Homo sapiens: one gene and its partners. The protein of the gene in region 2 interacts with the protein of the main gene of each other region in a pairwise test. Each region holds a gene or a part of one and is shown on either strand. Other genes may lie near its edges.

What was found.
Region 1: the proteins of ELOA (region 2) and TRIM37 interact in binary tests that used the Homo sapiens proteins (3 or more experiments, as listed by UniProt).
Region 3: the proteins of ELOA (region 2) and GMCL1 interact in binary tests that used the Homo sapiens proteins (3 or more experiments, as listed by UniProt).
Region 4: the proteins of ELOA (region 2) and CNTROB interact in binary tests that used the Homo sapiens proteins (3 or more experiments, as listed by UniProt).

What each region holds. Positions count from the first base shown.
Region 1 is NC_000017.11:58,998,864-59,005,885, reverse strand, and holds part of TRIM37 (E3 ubiquitin-protein ligase TRIM37), read left to right. Parts: intron 1-4,130; exon of another isoform or gene 4,131-4,144; coding exon of another isoform or gene 4,145-4,171; coding exon 4,172-4,288; intron 4,289-6,426; coding exon 6,427-6,509; 3' UTR 6,510-7,022. UniProt on the Homo sapiens protein: E3 ubiquitin-protein ligase required to prevent centriole reduplication. Probably acts by ubiquitinating positive regulators of centriole reduplication.
Region 2 is NC_000001.11:23,746,453-23,753,474, forward strand, and holds part of ELOA (elongin-A), read left to right. Parts: intron 1-2,568; coding exon 2,569-2,625; intron 2,626-3,389; coding exon 3,390-3,496; intron 3,497-4,392; coding exon 4,393-5,578; intron 5,579-5,954; coding exon 5,955-6,066; intron 6,067-7,022. UniProt on the Homo sapiens protein: SIII, also known as elongin, is a general transcription elongation factor that increases the RNA polymerase II transcription elongation past template-encoded arresting sites.
Region 3 is NC_000002.12:69,825,479-69,832,670, reverse strand, and holds the start of GMCL1 (germ cell-less protein-like 1), read right to left. Parts: upstream 3,012-7,192; 5' UTR 2,779-3,011; coding exon 2,519-2,778; intron 1-2,518. Other genes in the region: ANXA4 (annexin A4), read right to left, coding at 7,156-7,192. UniProt on the Homo sapiens protein: Possible function in spermatogenesis. Enhances the degradation of MDM2 and increases the amount of p53 probably by modulating the nucleocytoplasmic transport.
Region 4 is NC_000017.11:7,927,394-7,935,205, reverse strand, and holds the start of CNTROB (centrobin), read right to left. Parts: upstream 3,001-7,812; 5' UTR 2,127-3,000; coding exon 1,857-2,126; intron 1,069-1,856; coding exon 984-1,068; coding exon of another isoform or gene 980-983; intron 742-979; coding exon 660-741; intron 218-659; coding exon 61-217; intron 1-60. Other genes in the region: TRAPPC1 (trafficking protein particle complex subunit 1), read left to right, coding at 3,377-3,475, 3,630-3,700, 4,057-4,195, 4,472-4,600; KCNAB3 (voltage-gated potassium channel subunit beta-3), read left to right, coding at 5,771-6,012, 7,380-7,423, 7,512-7,549, 7,783-7,812. UniProt on the Homo sapiens protein: Required for centriole duplication. Inhibition of centriole duplication leading to defects in cytokinesis.

The DNA of each region.
Region 1 (7,022 bases), on a different chromosome or scaffold from region 2:
CGCCGTTTTATGTGTGTTCATGGCCCTGTCTGCTGCTAAGTAAATAATAATGAGTTTACACATGGTATACTTAATAAAAATTGATTGGTGTTCCAAGAAAGATTTTGAAGCAAAATCCTTATATTGGCATTTTTATTAACATGTGATTCTGCATAGTACTGTAAACCTTGCTGAGTTCTAAACGTGACATTATTCACATACTACCCAGTAATACCCACATGCAGTCTAGCATTTGAATATTCACTATAGGCCTCAGCTCTTACAAATACTAATTAAATGATTTGTTTTAAAGATACACATGTAGGCTGGATGCGGTGGCTCACACCTATAATCCCAGCACTTTGGGAGGCCGAAGCGGGTAGATCACAAGGTCAGGAGTTCGAGACCAGCTTGGCCAGTATGGTGAAACACATCTCTACTAAAAATACAAAAAAATTAGCTGGGTGTGGTGGCACATGCCTGTAATCCCAGCTACTTGGGAGGCTGAGACAGGAGAATTGCTTGAACCTGGGAGGTGGAGGTTGCAGTAGGCTGAGATCACGCAGTGGCACGCCAACCTGGGTGACAGAGTGAGACGCCGTCTCAAAAAAAAAAGATACACATGTAATGAATAGAGTTTGAAAAATGTATTTAATAACTTTTTTAAAAGAATAATGTAGATTTGGGGAATTCCAGAGAATTCCAATTCATTGTTTTTGAATCCTGAAGGTTGGTATTTGTCGGGAATTCAGAAACACTACTAATAAGAGGTCAAATTTGTGCCTTGAAGTTCAACTCAGTGTGTTTTAGTGTTTTCAGCAACAGTTCCATGAAGGGCCACAAGGTGGAGGTGGTGCTTCACAGAACTAGCTAGTTTTGGCCTCTTTAACCGTCTCTGCTCTTTTTCTTTTTCCCCTACTTCATAAAATTGTTGTAAACTCTTCACTCTTTTAGAACAGGAAAGTTTGTTTTTTTGTTTTTTTGTTTTGCTGAAGATGGAGACGATTTCTAAATATTTAAGGCTGAAATAATGCTAACCAAACTCTTCTTAAAAAGAGAAAAGGAAGAGTGTACCACTGAAGCCATGTGGGGCCACAGTTGCCTTTGTTGGAAGCTTTTTAAACTAGAGCAGATTTTATTTCTTTAAGAGTTAAAATACCCATCGATTTTTCCTTGAGTAACCTTTGGTAGTTTGTACCTAGGAAAGAATTTGCTCATTTCATCTGTTTTTGGTTTCATGAGCATACAGTTACTGATAGCATTTTATTATATTTTACTGTTTATAGAACCTGTAGTTGATGTCCTCTTTCATTCCTGATATTGGAAATTTTGTTTGCTCTCTTTTTGTTAGTGAATCTACCTAGAGGCTTTTTTAACTTTATCGATCTTTTCAAAGAAACACCATTTTGTTTCATTGTGGTTTTTTTGTTTTTCTGCTGATTTTATTATGTTTTTTATTATTTCCTTCCTTTTACTTGCTTTGAGTTTAATTTCCTTTTTCTAGTTTCTTAAAGTAGTAGTTTAGATTATTGATTTGAGATATTTTCTCTTCTAATATAAATAATGTCATACCTTTCCTTTTAAGCACTGCTATAGTCACATCCCACAAATTTTGATATGTTTTATTTGTATTTAATTCAGAATGTTTTTTATAATTCTACAAAATTTTCAACTTTTTTCCTTTTATCTATTGTCTCTCCTTTGTTATTTTTGCTATCTCTATGGCATTCTATTTGACACAATTTAGACCAGTCCCTTTATCCCCTTCATTCTTAATTCTTCCTTCCTTCCTCTGTCCCTCAGGGTCTTGTGTTCTGTTACCTAGGCTGGAGTACAGTGGTACAATCATAGCTCACTGCAGGCTTGAACTCCTGGGCTCAAGTGGGCCTCCCTCCTCAGCCTCCCTAGTAGCTAGGACAATTACAGGTGCACACCAATGTGTGCCTGGCTAATTTTTAAATTTTTTTTTTTTTTTTTTTTTTTTATAGAGATGGGGCTTTGCTAAGTTGCCCAGGCTAGTCCCAAACTCCTGGGCTCAAGCGATCCTCCTGCCTCAGCCTTTCAAGTAGCTGGGACTACAGGCATGTGCCACCAGGCCTGGCTGATGAGCATTTTATCTAGCTTTAAAGCCCTTAAATAATTCCAGACATCTGTGTCATCTCATCATTGATGTTTGTTGGTTGTCTTTCCTGGTTTTTCATATGCTGAATAATTTGGGGTTGTATCCTGAACATTTTCATTAGGTTTTTTTTTTTTTTTTTAATAAGACTCTGGGTCTTGTTTTAATCTGCCAGTTTTGCTGTCATTCAAATTCAGTCTTCATCAGTATGCCTGTTTCTATTTACTTTTCAAAGTAAATAACTATGAATATCCTTAAATAACTACACTACCCATCTCTCCAGGTTTTATTGCTACTTTCAGTGGAAAAGATAGAGTGGAATGTGCTTGCTCCATTGTACCTAGAACCTTCCTTCCAGAGAGGATTTTACTTTTGCTTTATTCAAATAACACTAGCTCCTGAACAATTTTTATGTTAATTTCTTAAAATTTGAACCTCAACCTTAAATCCCAAACCGAAATTAGGCACATAAATCTTACTTTGAATTTTGAGGTAAGACTTTTTTCCCCCTCTTCAGAGCCCAGTAGAAACAGACAAAATTCCTTGCTGTTTTCCTATGCCAGTAGGCAGACATTTTTCTAGTCTGTTCTTTCAATAGGAATTTTAGCATTGGCCAGGCATGGTGGCTCATGCCTGTAATGCCACCACTTTAGGAGGCCAAAGCGGGTGAATCACTTCAGCTCAGGAGTTGAAGACCAGTCTGGGCAACATGGCGAAATCCCATGTCTACTAACAAATTACAAAAATTAGCCAGGTGTGATGGCACAGGCCTGTTGGGAGGCTGAGGTGGGAGGATCATCTGAGCCCTGGGAGGTCAAGGCTGTGGTAAGCCATGATTGCACCACTGTACTCCAGCCTGGGTAACAGAGTGAGACCCTGTCTCAAGAAAACAAACAAAAATTTTAACATTATGCAGGGGGTGGAGTTTTAGTCTCACTTTTAATTCCCTTTCTGTGGGGGGTTCATTTTTCTATCCCAAGGCAGTGTTTAAAAATCCTCACAGGAAGCTCTCCAGGGCAACTGTGGTCCCTGACCCACTAATGAAAGTTCCTTATCTTTCTTTGTTTCTGACACTGTGGATTTCCTTTCTGCCTTTTAATGTGCTTGTTCATTAAAATAATGTTTTACATTTATATTTTATCTTGCTATTTGTAAGGATTTGTAGCAGAAAGATTTTCAGGTTTTCTTGATTGCTATCTTGCTGAAACAAATACTTTTTATAGAATTATTCTTTTAAAAATCAACTGATGTGGCCAGGCACAGTGACCTGTAATCCCAGCACTGTAAGAGGCTAAAGTGGGAGGATCTCTTCTCAAGCCCAGGATTTCAAGACCAGCCTGGGCAACATATTATAGCAAGACCCTGTCCCTCCAAAAAATTTTTAAATTAGCAGGGCATGGTGTCATGTACCTGTGGACCTATCTACTTGGGAGGCTAAGGCGGAAGTATCCCTTGAGCTTAGGAGTTTGAGGCTGCAGTGAGCTATGATCAGGCCACTGCAGCCCAGCCTAGGGTGACAGAGCGAGACCCTGTCTCTCAAAAAATAAAAATAAATACAAATCAACCGACATACACAAAAAAATTAGATGCCCAATTAGAATACAAACTATTATTAGAATTGCCAGAATTTCTAATATTCATACACCATGTGGATTTGTATAACACATTTATATTTATGTTTTAGGCTAGGGAATATAATTATGTCTATAATGAATCAGGATTAAAAGAGTTCCTGTTATCTCTTGTGACTGAAAAAAAAACAGTGTTTGATTTGGAAAAAAGTATTATCAGTATAATAAAATTAATGCTGGTTTCAAATAATAACTTTCAGGTACTATGGAAAGGGCAATTTTAAACTTTGAGAACAGAAATAAAACCACTCTAAATAGCTAAAGAGAATCGAGGTTTGTGCGGTTACTTTTGTCTTTGTTTTGTTAGTGTTTAGTTTGTTGAATTCTTGGCATTCCATGTAAAATTCAATAGGAATCTCAGTTTAGCAGATACGGAGATTTCTGTTTCCTTTTACTTACAGTGGTTTCTTTTCAGAAACATGTTCTCCTTCCTTCCTGCCAGGAATGAGTAGCGACAGTGACATTGAATGTGACACTGAGAATGAGGAGCAGGAAGAGCATACCAGTGTGGGCGGGTTTCACGACTCCTTCATGGTCATGACACAGCCCCCGGATGAAGGTGCAGCACATGATGTCATTTTACACAGATTACTAAAACCACCGCTGCCGCTTCTCTTTCTTCTTCTTCTGCTGCTGCTACTTCTACTTTTTCCGCTCTACTGCTTTTGCTTCTTCTGCTTCTACTTCTTTTTTTTTTTTTTTAATTATTGTCATTTGTGAGACAACATTCTTTGGTTAACTATTATGGTGAGTACTAAAAAAACACAGCCAGTAATATTTGGCTTGGTTGCACCTAATGAGTGCTACTTACTGGGCAGAGACGGGGTCCACAACCTGCTTTTGTATAGTCTGTGACCTGAGAATGGTTTTTACTTTGTAAAGAGTCTTTAAAAACCAAGCAAAAGAAACAAAGAAGAATTTTCTTTGTGGGTTTTTTTTTTCTTTTTTTTTTTTTTTGCCCCGAGATGGAGTCTTGTTCTGTCACCCAGGATGGAGTGCTGTGGCGTGATCTTGGCTCACTGCAACCTCCGCCTCCTGGGTTCAAGCGATTCTCCTGCCTCAGCCTCCTGAGTAGCTGGGATTACAGGTATACACCACCACGCCTGGCTAATGTTTTTGTATTTTTAGTAGAGATGGAGTTTCACCATGTTGGCCAGGCTGGTCTCGAACTCTTGACCTCGTGATCCACCTGCCTTGGCCTCCCAAAGTCCTGGTATTACAGGCGTGAGCCACCGTGCCCAGCCCAAAGAAGAATTTTCAAGAGAGTCCATTTGTGGCCTACAATGCCTAAATATTTACCCTTCATAGGAAATGATTGCCAATCCCTGGGGAGATTTCAGATGTTTGGGTTTTTTTTCCTTTTCTAGCCTACTGTAAGATAACTTTAACCTTTTAAAATAAAAATAACTTAGAAATACATGCAGATTATGAAATAATTTTTATTCCCTCCTACCCCCAAAAAAGTTATTAGGAAAAAAACAAGAGAAACCTACTATTAATATTTTCCCTTGTTTTCTTCTGTCTTATTTGCATTGCATTTCTTCTTCTTTTTTTTTTAGACAGAGTCTTGCTCTGTCTCCCAAGCTGAAGTGCAGTGGCACAATCTCAGCTCACTGCAACTTCTGCCTCCTGGGTTCAAGCAATTCTCCCACCTCAGCCTCCTGAATAGCTGGGACTACAGGCATGTGCCACCACATCCAGCTAGTTTTTGTAATTTTTAGTAGAGACAGGGTTTCACCATGTTGGCCAGCCTGGTCTCGAACTCCTGACCTCAGGTGATCTGCCCACCTTGGCCTCCCAAAGTACTGGGGTTACAGGTGTGAGCTACCATGCCAGCCCTACCTAAATATTTTATAAATAGTTTTTTATTCTGCTTTTTTCACTTAAATATATTTGTATGTTATTTAAAATTTCATAAACTTCATTTTTTATGGCAACCTAATATTCTATCATGTGGATATACCATAAGTATTCTGCTGTCAAGCAGTTTTCTGGAATACAGATTAATCAGTAAAAGGATATACTGTCAAGTTAGAGAAATACACATTTAAAGTTACCCAGAGGCCTTAATAATCAATCTGAACATTCCTCTGCAAGATATCCTGGAGTGACAACATTGTTAAGCCTATGCCATTTTCTGCTTTATATTTTGCATATTTTCCTGGTGCTCTGGTATCTTTTTCAATACAGAACCAAGCATTTGATGATTTGTAAGTATTAAGGCATCTTTAGTAACTTCCTCTGCTTCTAAAATAAGCATCCAAATTTTGTGCAAGTTATTTGGAGTGCTGGTGGGTTTTTGTAGTGATACTTGAATGCGTAGTTTAATTGGCTTTGAAATATGTTTTATGTTTATAAGGTCTTGAATCTTGAGAATATACACCATTGCTTCTTGTTCCCTTTTTAAGCTGTCCCCAGATTGTCCCCAGGAGGACAAAATGAGACAATTCCTGTCATCTTTTAATTGTGGGTGTCTATTACACATTTTGTTTTTTTCTCCTTTATTTTTCCTTTGTGTTTGCTTATACCTGACTCAGATCACAAATTCTCTGAAGACAGAGATTTGTTCACAACCCAGCACATCTTTATCACTTAAATAACACATTTGGTAAGATTATTTAAAGACTTGGGAAGGAAAATACTGCCCTTGTTATATGCTTTTAAATTTTAAATTTTTTATTTATTTTTTAATCATAGATACACATTCCAGTTTTCCTGATGGTGAACAAATAGGCCCTGAAGATCTCAGCTTCAATACAGATGAAAATAGTGGAAGGTAATTGCCAAATCAAGAGAACTGACTTGCAAGCTACCTTGACCCTGAATTTTGCTGTAGTTGGTGCTCAAATTTGTCATCAGTCAGATAATCAGATTTGGTCTTATTTCTTCATTATCTCGACCTGAAATAGTAATTTGGAAACTGTTGGAAGGTGGCACAGTTTAGTCTAAGACAGCAGTAGTACATGGGAAAAACAGTATGGGAAGAGTTCTTTGTAATGTAAGGAAATAACAATGTAGTTCTCTATTAATTTAGCAAATTTGTACATTCACAAAAGGCAGTTTGTCTACTACAGCAGAAGGCTGGTTAACTGCCAGAAAATGTACCTCCAGGCCCTGCATGCCGTCAGTAACCCGCCCGGCATTGGTGCTCTACTGTCTTTGGCTAGAGCTTAGTTGTGTTTAAATAATCATCTTTATATTTGGGGTTTTAATTACAGTTCCATTAGTGCCTGTAGATTAGTGAACAGAAAATTGCTTTGGAAGAGATTCTGCCCTGTAGACACTATGTGAAT
Region 2 (7,022 bases):
AAAAAATTAGTTGGTCATGGTGGTGGTGCCTGTAATCCCAGCTACTCGGGAGGCTGAGACAGGAGAATCTCTTGAACCCAGGAGGCGGAGGTTGCAGTGAGCCGAGATGGCACCATTGCACTCCAGCCTGGACAACAAGAGCAAAACTCCATCTCCAAAAAAAAAAAAAAAAAAAAAAAGGATCCTCGTCCTGTGTTACATTTTCACTGTGAAAGCTACCAAGAACATTTTGATGGCAGGTGACATTAAAAATATTTTTTGCTTTTTTGGGTTGAAGGATTGTACAGGGGACAACTGAGATGCCTCAACATGTACCTTGCAAATGTTTGATATTTCTCAGTTGCCTGTTACCAGTTCTTACAAGCTCTATAGTTGGTATCTTGTTTGATAACAGCAAGTTTCGATCCACCTGAGGATGCCCAATGTGCCTTTGCCTTGTTATTGCTTTGTTCTTTCTTGAAATTTACTGAAAATAGAGGGGTTGTGAAGTCCTTTTTTCTCTTGTGTTAGACTAAATGAGTCTGAAAATCTTGAGGGTTTTAGTTTTGTCTGCTTTTAAATCACCCCTAATAACCCAAAGTAAAGCAGAAAGACAGGATTTGTTCTTCCAGTTAGTGCTAGGCTTTGAGATAAACACACCCACAGTGACTTCCAGCCTCATCCTTATATGTTGGCTTTGTAGAGGTCCTGGGACACCTTTGTTCCCTTGGTGACCTCCTTTACTATGTGGGTTCTGAACTGTCTAATGACATCACAGGAGGAGTTTTTCTGCTTTCTTGCAAGTATGCTAAGAAGTATATGTGCTGCCGCTCTATTTTCATTTCCTAAGGACAGTGTTCTGATGTTGGATGCTTCTCCTGGCTTTACTTAACTGTAGTAGACACATTTGACTTTCCAGCTTGTTAAGCAAGTTACCTAACCTGATTGGGTTCAGTTGCAATATCTGTCAAATGGGGAGAATAACATCCACTTTATAGAGTTGGTTAGTGGGAATGAAATGAGGTAACGTGTAAGAGCTTAGTGTAGTAGCTGACACACAATAGATGGTATGTGAATATTCCCAACCTACCCCTTCCAAGGAATGGCATTATGAGAGAACCACTTGTTTTTGACCTTTTCAGTGATTTAAAATTTTCCTTTAAGTGAAGGAATTGGCATTAGTCTTTGCACCCATAGCTTGGGTGGCAAGAAACACAAAATTTTTCCTGAGTTGGATGATGGTGGTGATAGGATTTGAAGTGGGGGATAATTTTCACTCATCTATGAAGGTGAGACTCCCTAGATATGCCACTTGGCCTCTTACTTGATCTCAAGATTATCACTTGTGATCCAATTGCTCTGTCTGGTGACCATGTTAAGTAATGATTGAAGTAGAATGACCAGAAAAACAGACTTGTTACTCCACCTAATAGCAATATGGCATACCAATTATAGTCTGGGCCACACATGGTAAAAGCAGATCTTGTTATATAATATTTAAATGCAAAGGTAACCACAGTTATCTATTTTAAACTACTTGTATTTTGAAGCACTCCTTGTATGGTAAGTATGTTTAGATACACGTAGACATTTCCTAGAGAAAGGTTTGGCCAGTCATAACTTTTGTTAGAGCAAGTAGGAATTGGCTGAGGAATATCTGGTTGAAGATCAAGGGCAGAACGCTGAAAGCTGTCAGTCGATGAATGAAATGATAAGTATTTAGTGAGCTTTCATAGTGTTCTAGACACTATGACTAAGGACTGCACATGGTTTGTCTCTGAATCCTCATAGTTTGTGAAGTAGAGACAGGACCAAGTTCCTATTTTGCAGATGAAGTAACTGAAGTTTGGGGAGGTTTTTGACTTATTCAAGATCACTCATCGAGTGACAAAGCCAGATTGTCAAGCCTGTCTCTGACTCCAGAACTCCATCTTAACAGCTCTGCTGTACTGATTTTGACCTAGTTTTAGGAACTATAGGAAGGAAATGTGATCAAACCCAGATCACTTTTCTAATCTACCCAGGCATTTTGTGTCCACCGTTAACATCCAAGCTCTGATTCTGGCAACTTGAAATTACTCTTGGCTTTACACTTATGTAGAAGAAAACAATTCTGTTAAACACTGTGGCCCTTCTGGAAACATGATGGTCTTTTCCTGTAGAGGCCTTTTCTTCCTTTTACTTCCTCTGTGCCAGGTCCATGGGTAATTCCCCTAAAATTGGTACCTTTCTCATAAATTCTATCAAAACTAGGGCAAAAATGATAGTTGTTGATGGCTTTTATCAGAGTTGGTAAGTTTTGATTCTCTTCTCTACATCTTATTTCCCCTTGGTGTAGCACAGTGGTTGAAAGCAGGGAATCTAAAGCCACAGACCTGAGTGAATCTTGCCCCACTTGCATCTTGGGACAAGAAACATAACTTTTATGAGCCTATTTTCATACTTGTAAAATAGGGATATTACTTACTACTGTAAATAGGCATAATACTTATACTCATTACTGTAAATGGTTAGCACTAAGCACTTAATAATCAGATATTCTTGTTAAAGTGAATTTGACTATTGAAATTAATGTTTTCTTCTCTGCAGCTATTGAAATATTTGAAGAAACTCTCCACCCTGCCTATTACAGTAGACATTCTTGCGGTAAGAACTGTGTGACTTTAAATATTATATAATGATATCCCATTCCCTTCTCACTGGAGAGTGTGTAGAATAAGGTTACAAGTATGGGCTTTGGAAGTGAAAGAAACCAGACACAAAAGGCCATATATTGTCTGATTCCATTTATATGAAATGTCCAGAATAGGCAAATCCATAGACAGAAAGTAGATTAGTGGTTGCCAGGGGCTAGGAGAATTGGGAGGAACAGGATTTCTTTTTAGGGTAATGTAAATGTTCTGGAATTAGATGGTTATAATGGTTATATAATATTGTGAATGTTCTGGAAACCACTGAATTATGTACTTTAGTTAAAGTGGTGAATATTGTTAAATGACTTTATTTCAAAATTAGAATTAAAAGAACATTGACTTTGGCATCAATTAGTCCCAGATTCAAATCTGAGTTCTATGACTTTAGGCTGTTCCTATGTAAAATGGGTCTGATTCCTGCTTCACAGGGTTATTGTAAAGACTGATTCAGAACTGTATGCAAAGCTCTTATCTTAGTGCCTAACACCTGCCCTAATCACTCTTGTTATTAAAGTTCTGAACTTGGTACGCTTTGCTACTGTGTGTCATTAGAGATTTGGGGCATAGACACAAAGTAATTTAGTGTTAAGATTTGCAGGGTATGTTGTAGGAAGGAAGTATTGCTTGTTGAGTTTCTCAAAGTAGAAAGCCTTATTTCTTTAGAAAAACGTTAGCCTAGTTCCAGACCCCTCTAACAATTACTTTGTCAAATTTTAGGAGACTGGGGTTGGGAAAACAGTAAATAGCTTGCGAAAACACGAGCATGTTGGAAGCTTTGCCAGGGACCTAGTGGCCCAGTGGAAGAAGCTGGTTCCTGTGGAACGGTAAGAACATTTCTCTTTAGGTTTGTTCAATTTCATGGTTAAATTTACAGATAGAAAAGGTTTTCTTTATTATTTCTCTTTTGCCTTCTGAAATTGTTTTGCCTCAATTATAAAAAATAATCCATGATCATTGTAGAATATTAGAAAATATTAAAAATAGAAATCAAAATTTCCTATTTCTATCACGCAAAGACAAACGTTATGAACATTTTGGTACGTTTCTTTTTTTTTTTTTTTTTTTTTTTGAGACAGAGTCTCGCTCTGTTGCCCAGGCTGGAGTGCAGTGGCGTGATCTCGGCTCACTGCAAGCTCCGCCTCCCAGGTTCACGCCATTCTCCTGCCTCAGCCTCCTGAGTAGCTGGGACCACAGGCACCCGCCACCACGCCCGGCTAATTTTTTGTATTTTTAGTAGAGACAGGGTTTCGCCGTATTAGCCAGGATAGGATGGTTTTGATCTCCTGACCTCGTGATCTGCCCGCCTCGGCCTCCCAAAGTGCTGGGATTACAGGCGTGAGCCACCGCGGCTGGCCTGGTATGTTTCTTTCTAACTGCTCCTTAAATGGCATTTTTTTAAGTTGTGAACTAGATAAATAGTGAGCAGCCCCCATTTTATATAACAAATTAAACATGTCCCCATGTTTTAATAAATCTCCACATTTTCATGTATATGAGATATTTGATCTTTGCATCTTGTGGTTAAACTCACCATTTCTCATTTGGGTTTTCCCAGTTTTAAGATTTGAGTATCTTTAAGCATAACCTACTTATCTTCTTCTTAAGACCTTGTTGTTTCTAACTCTGCATCTTCACTTCTTTGGTGAGTTCAGATTCTGTGACTTTGTCCCTCAAGAAGCAAGATTTAGACCTACTTTGTCTGCTTTTTCTTTTATTTTAGAAATGCTGAGCCTGATGAACAGGACTTTGAGAAGAGCAATTCCCGAAAGCGCCCTCGGGATGCCCTGCAGAAGGAGGAGGAGATGGAGGGGGACTACCAAGAAACCTGGAAAGCCACGGGGAGCCGATCCTATAGCCCTGACCACAGGCAGAAGAAACATAGGAAACTCTCGGAGCTCGAGAGACCTCACAAAGTGTCTCACGGTCATGAGAGGAGAGATGAGAGAAAGAGGTGTCACAGAATGTCACCAACTTACTCTTCAGACCCTGAGTCTTCTGATTATGGCCATGTTCAATCCCCTCCATCTTGTACCAGTCCTCATCAGATGTACGTCGACCACTACAGATCCCTGGAGGAGGACCAGGAGCCCATTGTTTCACACCAGAAGCCTGGGAAAGGCCACAGCAATGCCTTTCAGGACAGACTCGGGGCCAGCCAAGAACGACACCTGGGTGAACCCCATGGGAAAGGGGTTGTGAGTCAAAACAAGGAGCACAAATCTTCCCACAAGGACAAACGCCCCGTGGATGCCAAGAGTGATGAGAAGGCCTCTGTGGTGAGCAGAGAGAAATCACACAAGGCCCTCTCCAAAGAGGAGAACCGAAGGCCACCCTCAGGGGACAATGCAAGGGAGAAACCGCCCTCTAGTGGCGTAAAGAAAGAGAAGGACAGAGAGGGCAGCAGCCTGAAGAAGAAGTGTTTGCCTCCCTCAGAGGCCGCTTCAGACAACCACCTGAAAAAGCCAAAGCACAGAGACCCAGAGAAAGCCAAATTGGACAAAAGCAAGCAAGGTCTGGACAGCTTTGACACAGGAAAAGGAGCAGGAGACCTGTTGCCCAAGGTAAAAGAGAAGGGTTCTAACAACCTAAAGACTCCAGAAGGGAAAGTCAAAACTAATTTGGATAGAAAGTCACTGGGCTCCCTCCCTAAAGTTGAGGAGACAGATATGGAGGATGAATTCGAGCAGCCAACCATGTCTTTTGAATCCTACCTCAGCTATGACCAGCCCCGGAAGAAAAAGAAAAAGATTGTGAAAACTTCAGCCACGGCACTTGGAGATAAAGGACTTAAAAAAAATGACTCTAAAAGCACTGGTAAAAACTTGGACTCAGTTCAGAAATTACCCAAGGTGAACAAAACCAAGTCAGAGAAGCCGGCTGGAGCTGATTTAGCCAAGCTGAGAAAGGTAACCCCTTCAGCCCCTTGGTGGCTTCCCACCCAGAGCACCTGGCCCTGCAGAGCTCAGAGGATTGCCCTGCCACTGTTTTCCTTAGCTTGCTTTTGGGGGGCATGTTGAATTTCAGTGTGCAGTAATTTCCTCTGGGCTTCACTGGTTGTCAGGGTATATGGTACCGCAAATAAGAATTTTCTGCATTATTCTCTTGTGATGGGCTCATCTGTATTTATTTCCTGACTGAGGTGGTGTCAGACATGACTGTGGCCCCCTCCAACCTGGATCTTCCTGTGCAAGATGTCCAGTTAATGCTCCCGGGAATAGACTGTAGGAAAGAGAGCTGTGCTTCTACTCACTGACTCTCCACCCATGGGTCTGTCCCCTGCAGGTGCCTGATGTGTTGCCAGTGTTGCCAGACCTCCCGTTACCCGCGATACAGGCCAATTACCGTCCACTGCCTTCCCTCGAGCTGATATCCTCCTTCCAGCCAAAGCGAAAAGGTAATTTTCTATATCTTCTTTTTCTTAATGGGAAAAAGATTTAAAAATTCATTCAAGGCAGGGTACAGTGGCTCACACCTATAATTCCAGCACTTTGGGAGGCCGAGGTAAGAGGATTGCTTGCGGCCAAGGGTTCTAAACCAACCAGGCGTGGTGGCTCACTCCTGTAATCCCAGCACTTTGGGAGGCCGAGGCGGGCAGATCACCTTAGGTAAGAAGTTCGAGATTAGCCTGGCCAACATGGTGAAACCCTGTCTCTACTAAAAATACAAAAATTAGCCAGGCATGGTGGTGCGTGCCTGTAATCCCAGCTACTCCGGAGGCTGAGGCAGGAGAATTGCTTGAACCTGGGAGGTGGAGGTTGCAGTGGGCCGAGATTACGCCATTGCACTCAAGCCTGGGTGACAAGAGGGAAACTCTATTTCAAAAAAAAGGAGTTCTAAACCACCCTGGTCAACACAGCAAGATGCTGTCTCTACAAGAGAAAAAAAGTAGCCAGGCATGGTGGCACATCCCAGGTACTCGGTAGGCTGAGGTGGGAGTATCACTTGAGCCCAGGAGTTCAAGGCTGCAGTGAGCTCTGATTGCATCACTGCACTCTAGCTTGGGTGACAGAGCAAGACTGTTTCAAAAACAAACAAAAAAACTATCACCATAACATCAGATTTTTGATGCATTTCCTAAGTGCATAGACTCTGAAGTTTGATGGCTTGGGTTTGAATCCCAACTCTGGTTTCTGCAAGTTATATGACCTTGAGAAATATCTTAATTTCTTTGGACCTTAGTTGTATATATTGTGTAAATGGGAGTTATAATGGTATCTGCCCCATAGGGCTCAGTTTAATGAATTCAGAAGTGATGCCTTTTTGCTCTGGGTTTATCACATAGTAATTGTTCAGTAAATTGCTGCTGCTGTTATTAGCAGCCCTTTATCCTATGTGTTACATAGGATTTTT
Region 3 (7,192 bases), on a different chromosome or scaffold from region 2:
TATGCTGTTTACTTGATATCTGTTTTAAATATACACAGGTAAAAAGTGAAAGGAGGGAAAATAAGATATCATTCAGACATTTATCAAAAGAAAGTGGCTGATGGATACACTACAATCCCAGACTTCACCACTACTTGTTATATACATGTGAGAAACCTGCAGCTGTACCCCCTAAATATAAATAAATAAATGTATATATGTATGTATGTATGTGGTAGTGGCTAAATTACTAGGGATAAAGAAGGATGAACATTTTGTTATGATAAAGGGGCCAATTCATCAAGGAGACATATTTACTGCATGCTTACATTCTAGACATTGTGCATTTGTTTGTTCTCATATTTGTCAAAGCCTAAAAGGCAGGTATTTATATCTCCAATTTACATATGAGGGAAATAAGGCTATTAAGTGCAGAATACAGACAAGAAGTCAGAATTTTTTTTTTTTTTTTGAGACAGAGTCTCACTTTGTCACCCAGACTGGAGTGCAGTTGTGCGATCTTGGCTCACTGCAACCTCGCCTCCCAGGTTCAAGCCATTCTTCTGCCTCAGCGTCCCGAGTAGCTGGGATTACAGGCAGCTGCCACCACGACTGGTTAGTTTTTATATTTTTAGTAGAGACAGGGTTTCGCCATGTTGGCCAGGCTGGTTTTGAACTCCTGACCTCAGGTGATCTGTCTGCTTCAGCCTCCCAAAGTGCTGGGATTATAGGCATGAGCCACTGCACCTGGCCAAGAACTCAGAACTCTTAAAACTATGCTATAGGTTGGCAATGGTGGCTCACACCTGTAATCCCAACACTTTGGGAGGTCAAGGCAACAGGATCACTTGAACCCAGGAGTTCCAGGCCAGCCTGGGTGGGCAACAGAGTGAGACCTTGTTTCTACAAATAAAAAAATTAGCTGGGTGTGGTGGTGCATGCCTGTGGTCTCAGCTACACAGAAGGCTGAGGTGGGAGAATTGCCTGATTCTGTGAGGTCGAGGTAGAGTGAGTCATGATCCCACCACTGCATTCCAGCCTGGGCGACACAGCGAGACCCTGTCTCAAAATAGAGAAAAATTTTTCCAAAGGAAAAAAAAACTATGCTACACTGACGCTTCAAAAAGGTTACAGGGTCAGGCATGGTGGCTCACACCTGTAATCTCAGCCCTTTGGGAGGCTTAGGTGGGAGGATCGCTTCAACCCAGGCGTTTGAGACCAGCCTGGGCAATATAGTGAGACTCCTTTAGAAAAAAGCTCCAAAAATCAAACAAACAATTAAAAAAGTTACTGAATAGTATTCACAGTAGGGGTACATTTTTGTATAATAAATACAAATATTCATACAAAAAAAGGTACAAAAGGTTTTATAAACCAAACTATTAAGTTTTTAATCTATGATTCCTTTTTTACAATATATAACACTTGTATAGCAAAACCTTTTTGAATCTGCTTTTAAAGTTTAATTTTAGGCCGGGTGCGCAGTGGCTCACGCCTATAATTCCAGCACTTTGGGAGGCTGAGGCCAGCAGATCACCTGAGGTCGGGAATTTGAGACAAGCCTGGCCAACACGATGAAACCTGTCTCTACTAAAAACAGAAAACATTAGCCAGGCGTGGTGGTGCGCGCCGGTAGTCCCAGCTACTCGGGAGGCTGAGGCACAAGAATCGCTTGAACCAGGAGGTGGAGGTTGCAGTGAGTTGAGATCGCACCACTGCACTCCGGCCTGAGTGACAGAGCAAGGCTCTGTCTCAAAAAGAAAAAGAAATCATTTAAAAAATTTCATGTGTGACCCTACCAAATAACCTTTAAAAACAAAAGCAGAAAAACCAAATTGTTTGTGTAAGCATATATTCTACCTATAAACTACATTCCAGGTCACAAGTCAATATTCCATCTTTCAACTCATCCAAAAAAAAAAAAAAAAGGGGTTAAACAAGCTGCAGCAGCACCGCCCTACATACAGTACATCCACGGTCAACGACTTCATCAACTACTAGAAACTTGCACAGACTCTGTTCCTAGTTAGGAACAAATGTACACTATTGATAAACTTCACCTTTACAATTAACAAGAACTCCTGTGTGCAATTACTTACCCTCCACTGAGTGGGCGACAATAAGAGTGCCTATTTCAGAGATTACATTTAGTGTCTGTACTAAGGCAACCGGATGCAAAACAACTTACTCTGCGGCTACCCACTTGAGAGGGCAAAGGTGGACTGGGAAGGCCAGCCAGCCGGGCGTCTCTAAGGTTTAACGAGACGCGAGCTCGGGCTTGGCGTTTCTCATCCTCATCTTGGGGCTGTAACAACACCCTGGAAGCGTCTGTGGTTGAAAATGCGGAACACCTGGCGTCTCCCAAGGCGCTCCCCAGTCCGCCCCGCATCGGGCCGGCTTCCACATTCACCCTGTCAAGGGCACGTCCCCTCTCCATAGGCTGGGGAGCGCTGCACCCCGCAAGCGCACGAGGCGCCGGCTCGGCCCCAGGCCCAACAGGTGCGGGTCCGGGTCCGCGCGGGTGCGTGCCCCCACGTACCTTCGAGGGGTGTTGAGGAGCCGCTGCTGCTCGTCCCCCTCCTCCTCATCCTCGTCCGTCTCCGAGTCAGGGTGACAGTAGCAGAAGGACCCGCTGCTCCGCTTGCGCTTGTGGCTGCCCGCACAGTAACAGAATCCGTGGCCCGCCGCATCGTCTCCAGTGTCCGGCCTCCGGGCCGAGCCCCCCGCCCTGGCACCCTGCGCCTGCTGGGCAAGGGCTGGTCTTGGCTGGCGCAGCACCCGGCTGCTCAACGATCCCATGGGTCACGGCTCCCCGAGACTTCAGGGAGCCCAGAGAAGGGGGTCTCCCGCCATGGCTCGGCCGCCGCCGCCAGCCTTCCCCGAGCGCAGGTGCCTACACCGCCACCTTCTCACGCGCAGCCCCAACCGTTGCAGCGGACGCCACAGTCTCCATCCTCTTCCCCGCCCGCAGCGTCCGGTCGCGCCGCGCTCTAGCACCGCAGCACCTCGCCCCCTCGCTTTCGCAACAAAGCGCGGGACGGAGGGCGCATGCGTACGGCGAGCCTCCGGAAGGGGCGGGGCAAGGCGTGCGTGCGTGGCAGGTGGAGCCTGCGCACAATCCGGCGCGCCAGTGCAGGCTGGTGTTTTCGGGCCTGCGGTGGGCGTGGCCTCTGACTAACCCGAACTTCGGCGTAGACGTAGTGTTAAACCGTGGTTCATACGCGCCTCTGTAGTGGCAAGACCTGGGACTCCAGTCACTCATTGTTTCTACAAAGGTGCCTTGAGTCCCCGGTGCTTATGGGCCTGTGCTAAGCTAGTGGCAAAACCCCGAAGCTATTTGGTCTCCTTGCGGGAGCTCGGCGCTTGCTGGGGCCACGCTCTGCTTGCTTGGGCGTGGCCTCCTGTGAGAGGGGGCCCTAGGATGAGGCGATATGCTGGATTCCTGGGCTTCCTTAACATGAGCCCTCCCCTGCTGTAGACGTGAATGGAACCCGTTAAGTTATGGGAACGTTCCCGGCACTCCTTTCCTTTCCTCTCAAGTGCCAGTGGGATGTCCGAATAGGGTCTGGCACCATGACTGTCTGGACTCAAAAGTGCCTTCAGGAGGCCCTAGCAAAATTTACTAGTGTCTGCTTGGAGTAGTAGCAGCTCTTGTGATGGACTCCGGACAGCCAGCGTTCATTCCCTGACTCCCTTCTGTTACTTTTTAAGTAAAATAATGAAAATATTTCAAATAGAGTAATACAGATTCCTGTGGACCGACCACTAGCTTGAAATTTTATCAGACTTGCTTTCATTCTTTTTTCCTCCCAGCTTTATTGAGGTGTAATCAATGATTCATTCTTTTTTAAATAGAACAATACATATAGGCAGAAGCCCCTGCGTACCTCCTCCATCTCATTCTGTCTCCCTCCCCAGTGGCAATCACTGTGCTGAGAATGTTGTATATCATGTCCATGCATGTCCTTATATGCATACCCATAAATAATATTTTCTTTTGCATGTTTAGACATATCATGGAATGGAATCATAGTTGTACCTCTCATTGTGCACCTTTCTCCTCTCTCAAAATTATACTCTCAAGATTTATCCATTTGGTCAATCGCTAGATAATTTTCACTGCTCATTGTATGACTGACCCATATTTGTTTTTACATTCCTTAGTGAGAGAGGTTATTTCTACTTTAACGGCCTTACAGAGCAGCAATGAACATCATGTGCAATGGATTCACCAAGCAGATTCCCAAAAGTGAATTTGCTGCGAAATCTGCAACTTTGTTAGCTATTACCAAATTGCTCTCTGGGTTGATTGCATCAAGGTACCAATTTAGACTCCCATTGGCAGTATACGTAGTTTGAGGGTCCCCGTGGACTAATGTCTGATTCATGCATGAGAAATCTGAACCGAGAGAGGCTAGCCGAGGCAGCTTGGGGTGGAGGTGGGAGGCGGAGAATAATGGCTGCAGAGGGATCAGCTTGCATACACAGAATTTGCCAGCACAAAGAACGTGCAGGTGTTTCCCATGGAGCAGATGTGGACCACCATGAGACAGCTTAGGTCCTGCCCAACAGGCCTGGGAGGAAGGCAATGAACTTCAGCACTGAGAACCTCAAAGAGTCACCAAATTCCTAGAGGCTGAAAAAGGAGTACACATTTGCCTTGCCAGAGGAACCTCAGGTGAGTAGCGTGATGAGGTTGACAAAGGAACCCACAAGAATGCCCACAAGAATCAACTTTAGTCTGTCAGGGTCACATAGGGCTGATCCTCTACCACCACAGCAATGACAGTCAGGTAACAACTTTCCTGCTCCCCTTAACTCTCTTCTTTGCTACAACCCAGACATGGTAGGTTGGGGCAGGGGGAGAACATTGAAGGAAACCTAGGTGGAAAAAGAAGAGAAGCCCATGGTCTCCCTTTCCCCAGAAACCAGCTTCCTACTTGCAATAGGCCAGAGGTGAGTGAGGGAAGAAGCATCAACTGTAAATCAAGCTTGCAATTTTGACTGGATATATTACTTACTAAAATGACACTGTTTTATGACCTTAAGGGACTACACAGTAGGACTTTAAAACCTAAGAGTGAACAGAAAAGTCATGACTCTATCTGAATTTACATCTGAAGAAGGGGAAGAACTGCCCACTGAATAAATGTAAGTGGACAGTGGGAGGGAAAAACAAACATAATTATATCTCAAAGTCATGCTAATTCAATATGACAAACATTCGTCCAGGGTGACTTTATCCCACCTTCTAGAAATCTTCTGGTGAATCAATGCTATTTGTTTTAAAATTTTGGCTAAGCTACATATCATTTAAAGATAAAACTTCTACCAAAAAAATCACCATGCTTCCAAAGACAAAGCTGATGTGGAGATTCTGTGGTCTTCTGGGAAGGCATTGAAGTGGTAGTATTATTTCCTGTAAGTAACTGGAGTGACTAAATATTCACATAAGTAGCTTCTACCAGTAGCTGTAGCTTTTATAATAAACAACACTAAACTAAAAAATTCTTATTATTTCACTCACCAAAATACAATGGATGCTATAAAATCAACAAAAAAGGCAAGTATTCCCACTATAAGAATATGAATGTCCTTTATACATTTATGATATTTAATATAAATGGTCTACTTAGAGCAGAGGGCATCACTCATTTCCAGAGAATAAGTTCATACATTATTTTATGTTATTGAGTAGTGTTTGGCATATGTGAACATTAGCCAGTAGGCACGCATAAGACTAAATATGATTTTTTTTTTCTTATCTTGTAATTCCTGTAGAAACTGAGTAACACAAGTCCTTCAAAAATAGCTCCTTTCAGGGGCCAAGATGAAAAACCTCAGAAGGTGAAAAGTGGATCAGAGAAAGACTATACCTCACTTTAAAGACACTTTTTTTTTTTTTTTTTTTAGATGGATTCTCGCTCTGTCGCCCAGGCTGGCGTGATCTCGGCTCACTGCAACCTTTGCCTCCTGCCTCCTGGGTTCAAGCAGTTCTCCCTGACTCAGCCTCCGAGTGGCTGGGATTACAGGCACCAGCCACCACACCCGGCTAATTTTTATATTTTTAGTAGAGATGCAGTTTCTCCATGTTGGCCAGGCTAGTCTTGAACTCCTGACCTTAGGTGATCCACCCGCCTTGGCCTCCCAAAGTGTTGGGATTACTGGCGTGAGCCCCCGCCCCCGGCCTAAAAACACCATTTTTAAATTAAAATTATTTTTCCACGTTCTTACAAAGTGAACTTTTTAATTAAATCCAAGTACATCTTCAGAATGTTTCTGGAGTTGAAAGGCACAGTGCAAATAGAAATTACTACAATCAACAAAATTGATTTTAAAAAGTATTTTTAGCACAAAAAAGTTTTCTTTATATCATACTAAATTCAGAGCATTACATCATTCCCAGAATACCTAGTTTGAAGCTTATTTTTTTTTCCATTCACTTGCAAGCTGGATTAAGACATTAACTATAATAATATGGAATGTTCAGCATTTATGTTTGGTAACCAGATGTATATGGTTTGTATAACCATACTTTAGAATTTAGTTCAGATAAATTGGTTTTGGTATACTTTGACTACAGAAAGTGATTTCAACATAAGATGTGATGAAGGAAGTCTCCCATGAAAAACTTAGTAAGGATCAACTGATGCTATGGACAAAACCTAAAAAAAGAGATTTGTAGATGCTTTCAAGGCTTTGACTATGAAATATAGAAAACTGGATGGGCATTCTTACTGACCGGATGCTTACAATTTCAAATGAAGAAACTACTAGCCACTCTAAAAATTGGATTAGGGAAAAAAGTGATTTTAGAACAGTCTTCCATTTAAAAAATTTTTCACTGAAAAGAAAATATGGAATAATTTAATATATTCAATGTCTGTGAAACACAAAGTAGAAAGTAATCTTTTAAAAACATGGAATACATATTTATTTCTACTTTAAAATCTCCATTTATATCTTATAAGCTTTGAAATGCAAGTACAGCTTTAAAGCATCATAATGACTAATTATAGGTGAATAATAATACAGACAGTCTATATTCTAGGAGGCAGCTGTAGGCGTTTTAATTGGAAATAAGCATTCTGAGATAATGATAATAGCAGTGTAGAAAAATGAAGTTAAAAAAATTCAAAGTGTTGAGAATCCTCCTGTCCTTCTGGGATTTTTATTTTAATCATCTCCTCCACAGAGAACAAGCAGTACTTTC
Region 4 (7,812 bases), on a different chromosome or scaffold from region 2:
ACACTTGGGTCCCCTCTTTCTAATCTTTGCTGCTTTCGAAAGGAAGCGTTTGCATCTTACCTTGCGGCGGGTATGCTCTGAATCCAATGCATCTCTCAGCCCCTGAAAATCTGGGGGATTGAGTGGAGGCCCTGGCCGAAGGCTGGTGTAGCGGGGAAACAGCTCCTCCAGGGCTTGGGCTGAGCTAGATGGAGACAAGTCTTGCAGGGGCCGGGTGCTGAGCAAATCAGGTAGAGAATGTTAGGGCTGGGAAAGCTTTTGGAATCCACTTGTCCAACTGTGATATTCTACAAATGAGGAAACTGAGACCCAGAGAGGGCAAGAGACTTGTCCAAAGTCGTAAAGCTATATAACCATAGTGCTATAAATAACACACAGGTCTGTGATTCACTTAAAGGTTTCAGCAGAAACAAGCTAACTCTTTAGAGGGGAAGAATGACTGCAGGTTAAGAGAAAGCCAGGTACTAGGCAACAGATACCTGTGTTCCTGAAGGAGTAAAGGGGGCAGGAGACAGTAGAAAAAGATGAAAACTGAAAGGCAAGTGATAAGCCTCTTGGGTTCTTAAGAGGTACAAAAGCAATAAAGGGAGAAATAAGGAACAAAACACCTGGATTTCCAAGAAAGCAAACAAGCTAGGAGAACCACAAGGAGAACTCACTTGAGCAAGGTGGCTGTGCTATCACTGTCAAAGGAGTCCTCTTCCCGTCTCTCTGAGCCAGCGCCAGGAATGAGAGGATCCCCTGCAGGCAGCCAGAGGGACCCCAAAGCCAGAGTCAGGTAATGACAAAAACAGGGGCCACCTGAAGAGAAAAGGCCTTCCTTTCCAGTTCCCTCACTCCTTCACCCCCTCTCCCAAAGAACGGGAGACTTTTCTCCTGAAATCTCTTGCTCAGAGGTTTTCCTGCCTGCTTCCTCTGTCCACTTTCTCCCACCCCTTACATCTAGGTTCTCCTTCATAGTTCTAGGGAAGGGGCTTACTCACGATAGGCTGTATCACGTGAGGTTTGGAGCATGGTCTGGAGCTGACCCCGAACACTTTCCATCTCAAAGATATGCTTAGAACCATCCTGGAAAAAAGCCACATGGAAATCAGATGCAGTCTGTGTTATCTATCTCCTACCTATTGCCAGGGTAGAATTTTCACTCCAGCACTTTGGAAAACAAGAAAAACCAAACGGATCCAATAAGGGATGTCCTAAACTTGAATCAGAAATTCAAATACTACAGAAGCCAGAAAGAGAGTGTAAATAAAATAATCGAGGAGGTATAAGACAAGAGTTGCGGAGATTCTTGCCGATTCAAGAACAAATGTAAGGACTGTATGGCTTATGGCTATCATTTTCAAACTCTGGAAGACCTAACCAGTCTGCAAATTGACTCTGACACCTTTTCTATACAATACTAATAACTATCTTCTCTGTAACATGTTGTAGTTGACTAAGCTATGTCTTAATGATGTACATGCCAAAGTTGGAACCATACTATCAACATAGTGTTGAGCTGGAAGGATCGGAGCTGCTATCCTAAGTCCCTAGCTCCCTCTTGGGATCAAGAAACCTTACCCATTCCCAGTGCACGGGAAATAGCTCACCAACCTACCCCATAGGTTTGCTCTATCTACTCGGAGCAGAGATGTCTCTCACAAAAAAACACTGGGAAGTTTCATAATTTTCAAATTATGGTGTCCCAGGTCACTCCCTCCCTTATAAGCATGGCTGCCTATGCAGTTAAAAGGAATATGAAATCCAACAGGAAGAGTTCAAATCTCATCAAAGCTTTTTATTTTTACCAACCCCAATCCCAAGACTCTCTGGTGTCTAGTGCCACAGTGGTCTCCAAGACACACTTCCCTCACCTTTTTCTTCAAGTTCTTTTCCAATCCGACTGACAAGCTTCGACTCAATTCTTGGGCGAAGCCGTCTAACCCTTCATGAGGCGGGGAGGTGGAGGGTAAATACAGCTGGGCTCGGGCCGTGGCCTCCGCCTGCCGGCTGAGGCGCAAAGAAGCATAGAGCTGGGAGGTCACTTCAGACGACACTTGGTTGAGCCCAGGGGGTTCTGATGAATCACTCAGGAGATCCTCCGCCCCGAGGGGTGAACTGGGGCTGTCAGCTGATGTTGCCATGAATACAGGGAAGAGACAACCGGAGACAGCAAAGAGCTGGGAGGTTCTGCTTTAGCAAAGTCCAGGAGGAAAAGTTCACGGAGAAAGACTTGGGAGAAGGGAGGAAGACTCCACGCCAAGGATCCTTGGTGAATTAAGGATATCGAGGCTTTCTGGTTAGAGGAAAGGTTTCCACCAGTTCCAGGGGCCATGGGAGTGGGCAAAAGCATCCCTTTCCCCAGCTCCTGGGAACAGCGTTAAGAGGGTGCAGCGCAGAGCGGGTGCGGACAGAAGACCTACTGTGGGACAACAGCGCTGCTGAAGCTCCTCTTCCCGACTACGAGTGCTGGAAGCTGCAGATCAACTCCGGCACAGGCTATCCCCGGTCAACTGAGCTCTTAAGTTCTCACACCCAAAACGTCCCAACGGAAACGGACCCAAATCCACTAGGAGCCCAATTTCTGTCCCCCTGCCCTACTAGTCCCTCAATTGGTTCCAGTCTCAAGAGAGGGCGGAACCTCACGCTCCCCCATCCCTTCACCCGTTCTACCCAGGGTCAGCTCCAGCTCCCTTGTACTTTCCCTTCGACCCCTCCTGGCAAGAAAGCCATAGCGAGCTTCCTTGTTCCCTAGAATCTCTCCCTCCCGACCACCCCAAAAGAAACCTTGTGAACCCTCAGTCACGCCCTAAGTCGTCCCTAAGAAGCACGCCGCCCTCAAGCCTAGCCCGAGATCCTCTGCCCCGACGACCACCTGGTTCCGCCTACTCTCCACCCTTCCAGTCCTCAGTCCCCAATTTGCCAAAGTGGGGGGCAAGCGATTGACCTCCTCCCCTGAGATCCCCCTCTCACGCCTCCCCCTACGCTCAAAACCGTTGGCAGCCTCCCGCCCACTGTCCACGGCTCCGCCTCTCTCGCCTCGATGACGTCACCCGCCCGCGAGACCACGCTCGCAGACACTCACATCACTTCTGTATCCCGAGCGCCTGGCCGCGCGTGCGCGGCTCCGGTGGCCACAGATTGGCTGAGGGAGGGAGGCGGAGTCTGACAAGCAGCACTGGAGCGGAGTTAATGCCCAGCCGCGGCCGAGCGAGAACCCCCCTAAGGGGCGGAGCTCCGTGGAAACCGGAAGTAACTCTTGACGGGCACTCGGAGCAGTTCCGGTGAGTCCGTGGGTGGGGTCCCCACCTGGTTGGAAGGCTGTGGGTCCGGGAACCCGAGCCCAAGGAGTGGGGGCGGCCCCGGAGCGAGGCTCACACTCCCTGCCCTGCAGATGACTGTCCACAACCTGTACCTGTTTGACCGGAATGGAGTGTGTCTGCACTACAGCGAATGGCACCGCAAGAAGCAAGCAGGGATTCCCAAGGAGGAGGTGACGAGAGGGCCCCGGTGCAGCCCGGGCGACCTCTCATCTCCAAACACCTATAGTCCCAACCCAGCCCCTCCTCTCCAAACCCCAGCTCGTTCCCACCCCCCACCCCATCTCCCGCATCAACCGAGAGCTAACTCTGCCCCTCTCCCTCCAGGAGTATAAGCTGATGTACGGGATGCTCTTCTCTATCCGCTCGTTTGTCAGCAAGATGTCCCCGCTAGACATGTACGCGGAGTCAGAGAAGATGTTGGGAGGAGGGCTAGCCTTGGGAATTTGGGGATGGGGGAAACTTTCTGAAGTGGAAGGAGCATTGGCCTCCAGAGGGGGGAAAGGGTACTTAAGAGAGGCTGAGTCCGGAGCGAGAGTGCTGGAGCTGGCAGGAGTGGGGGTGGGGAGGGTCTGAAAGTAGAGAAGTTGGTGGGGGCTAAATTGAGGGGTGACGATGGGCGATGTCTTTACTCAACCAGGCTTCTACAAAGGATATGTTTAGATAAAGAGGGAGTCGATGTTTGCGGGGATCAGAAGTGTCTCTTTGGGAGAGATTCTGCTCCCATTCTTTAACACCCTCCTCATCTCTGCAGGAAGGATGGCTTCCTGGCCTTCCAAACTAGCCGTTACAAACTCCATTACTACGAGACGCCCACTGGGATCAAAGTTGTCATGAATACTGACTTGGGCGTGGGACCCATCCGAGATGTGCTGCACCACATCTACAGTGCGGTCAGTGCCAGCCCCAGGGACCCATCCCCCAGAGCTCTTCAGAACCCCAAGACTCCCTCATCTCCCCTGCCCCAATCCTACTATATGTTTGCTCAACTCAAGAGTTTTCTCAGGGGCCCTTAGGTTCTTAACTCCCACCACCACTTTCTCCTCAGAGAGGGCTTGCCTTCCAGCCCTTATTCCTTGTGCATTCACACACCCCTGAGGTTATACAAGGTTTGGGGCTAAAAACCAGAAGTATCCAAAGCCTGGCTCTAACATCTTCCCTTTCCATAGCTGTATGTGGAGCTGGTGGTGAAGAATCCCCTGTGCCCGCTGGGCCAAACTGTGCAAAGTGAGCTCTTTCGCTCCCGACTGGACTCCTATGTTCGCTCTCTGCCCTTCTTCTCCGCCCGGGCTGGCTGAAGCAACCTACCTCAAGTCTCAGGAGAATTCATGTCTGCCTGGGGCCCTTCCGAACCTGTGCCAACTAAGGGCCCCCACTGTAAGCCCCCGCACCCCCACCCCCTGCCCAGAGCAACAGCCTAAAGGCCTGCCCTGATGCTCTCCTCCTACCAGAGTGAAGCCCACAGAGTCCCTCCACCTCCACACCAGGCCCTCTCTCCAGTTTTATCCCCTGCCTAATGCTGCGAGAAGCACAGAATAAACTTTTTGTCACTCTCTGCGGCCTGAGCGTGTTGGTTTGAGGGCCCTCTCAGTCCTGCCCCACGCATGAAGGTGGAAAGTAGGGCAGCCACACCCCCTGGAGGGCCACGAAGTGGCTTTGCGGATGGGTTTCTCAACCGTGGGAATATTGATGCTTTGAGCTGGATAATTCTTTATTGTGGGGACCGTCCTGTGCTTTGTAGGATTTTAGCATCCCTGGCCACCACCCACTAGATGCTGATAGCACAGGCATGAAATCAAAAATATCTCCAAACCTTGCCGAAAGTACGCTGGGAGATACATTCCCTCCCGATTGAGAATCACTGGGCCGGGGGAAGCCTGACAGCCCTTGGGTCCCAGAGGGTGCAGGAGCCATCCTCCCCAATTCCGCTCAGAAAATATTCAAGCTGCAGAGCCTTCAGCAGGCGGGGCTTATGCAGATGAGCGGCAGGTTTGGCTGAGAGGAGGGCGGCTCTATGCAGATGAGGAGGCGGTGCCTGCATGCTGATGAGCTGGGCCCGCTGCCGACGCGGCTGGGAGCCCAGCGGGTCCCGCAGCGGTTCGCGCTGAAGTGGCATCTCTCTCCCGCCCCGCTTCCCCCTGGGTCCTTATCCTCCGAGACCTTTACCTCATCCTCGACCTTTACCCTCATCCATTTCCCCCTCCTAATCCTTGCTCCTGTGTCCCCCGTAACTGAATATCTCCACTCCTGGCGCCCCCCACGTTTCTTCCCTCCCGCCGCAAACCTCGCGACCTCCAGCAGCCCGCCCCCGCGGGCCCGATCCTGCCTGGCGGCTCCCGCCGCAGCCTCCTCAGCCTTCCCGCTCTGCCGGGGTTCGCCCCACTACGCCCCCGGTCGTCAGCCCTCGGGCTTCCCTGCTCCCCCCTCCCGTCCCCTCGGAGCCCCCTCCCCCGCCTCGGCCAGCCAGCATGCAGGTGTCTATCGCGTGTACCGAGCAGAACCTTCGCAGCCGGAGCAGTGAGGACCGTCTGTGTGGACCCCGGCCGGGCCCCGGGGGCGGTAATGGTGGGCCGGCCGGCGGGGGGCACGGGAATCCTCCGGGGGGTGGAGGGTCTGGCCCCAAGGCCCGAGCTGCACTGGTTCCCCGACCCCCAGCGCCCGCTGGGGCCCTCCGAGAGAGCACCGGCCGAGGCACTGGCATGAAATACAGGTATGGGGGTGGCCGGGCAGCCCACCCCTTCCGCTTTCCTTTCGGGACCCCTGAGACTGCTTGAGATGGCCGCCAAGACCCCTTCAAACTTCACTAAGTAGGTCTCCCTTCTTTCCATCTCTTCTTTCTGTCTCTGGCACTCCCTCACTTTGTCCCTCTCTTGGTTTCTGTCGATACCCCTGACTACGAGAATCAAGTTTACCAAGGTTGACTGGGTCCTGTCAGACCCAGGGGATGCCCCTGAGCTTCCCTCCTTACCCCTGGGAAGGTCAGGGATGCATGGATCTCCACGCTACACGGATCTCCAGGCTATGCCTCCTCCAGTGGAGTGTCCTTGGGTCCGTGTCCTGGGGAGTGGAGGGAGGGAATCAGCTTCTCACTCTGGCCTGCTCGGGGTGCCTGACCCAGATACTGCCCCTGCCTGCCCCAAAGGCTAGGTCTTCTGCGACCTTTCTTGGGTGCAAGGGGAGTGGGGCCGGTGGGAAGGATGGACCACATTTTTCATCTCCATGCTGAGGGACAGGGTCTGGGTAGACTGAAATGTAACTGACTTTATCTCAGAGGACTGCCAGACCAGAAGCTCAGAACCTGAAGTAGGGGGTAGAGGAGGGGCTCCTGCTTGGGAGTGAGCTGAGGTCACTGATCTGACCTGCTTTGTCACCTGAGGAATCTGATCCCCTCTATATGGTGGCCCTGATTGGAAAGCTGAGCTGACACCTGGGTTGGGGGCTTTGGGAGGATGAGGGGGCTCACTGGTTCAGAGACAGTCTTCACAAGTCAATAGGAACAGAGGGAGTGGAGAGGGAGAACTAGGCTTTTCTGTCTTACTCTCCCCCCTCCCCCCAGGTCCTCAATCTGCCTTTCCTCCAGGCCCATCTGCCTAGCCTAGCCAGGGACCCCTGTCTGTCTGAATGCCTGAACTTGACTTGGTTTACCTCTTCCAACCTGCCATCTACCATTTGGCACAGCACTCTGCCTGAGGGCCTGGTCTCACAAACTCACCACAATCAAACAAAATTCCTCCCAGCCCCTCACTGCACACAACCCACAGATGACTCAAACACAGACAAGACCCCAGAAGAAGGACAAACCAGACTGCACGTCTTCAATGTGATAAGAGGGAATGGAGACTCTGGACAGTGGCTCCAGAGGAACAGTCACATATGGTTCACTTGTCCTTTTGAGAAAATTCCTAGGACCTCTGCTCTGGAGATAGCACTTGCCCAATCTTATAGGCCCACTGGGTCTAATTTCTTTGGACTGAGACACCTGAGGGCTTCTCAGTCTGGAAGGAGAGGAGCTGGGGGCTGATAATCTAAGTCCATAATGGAGGCTCCACCCCTTCCCGCTGCTTCTGTATCTTGCAGGAACCTAGGGAAGTCTGGTCTTCGGGTATCCTGTCTTGGCCTAGGTGAGTCAGAATAGGGATTAAGGAAAGGAGGGCATTCTTTCATGGTCTGCCCCCTGCAGTTCTCATGTGCCTGGCTTCTCTCTTGCAGGTACCTGGGTCACATTTGGTTCTCAGATCTCAGATGAGGTATAAGTTATCGGACCTAGAATCAGGGTGGTGGGGGTGAGGGAACTTGAAAAAAGGGAAGTGAACCTGGATAGGGGTTTGGACAACAAGCACAGGGAATGAGGGATCTGAGGCTGGAGGATGGGGAGAGGGGAGAGACTAGAGAACCCAGGGCTGAGATGTGATGGGTTAGAGTACAGTGAGGGAGGTAACTGAGGAGCAGTAGTTGATCTTTACCTCTTTCACCTCCCTAGACAGCAGAGGATGTGCTGACTGTAGCCTAT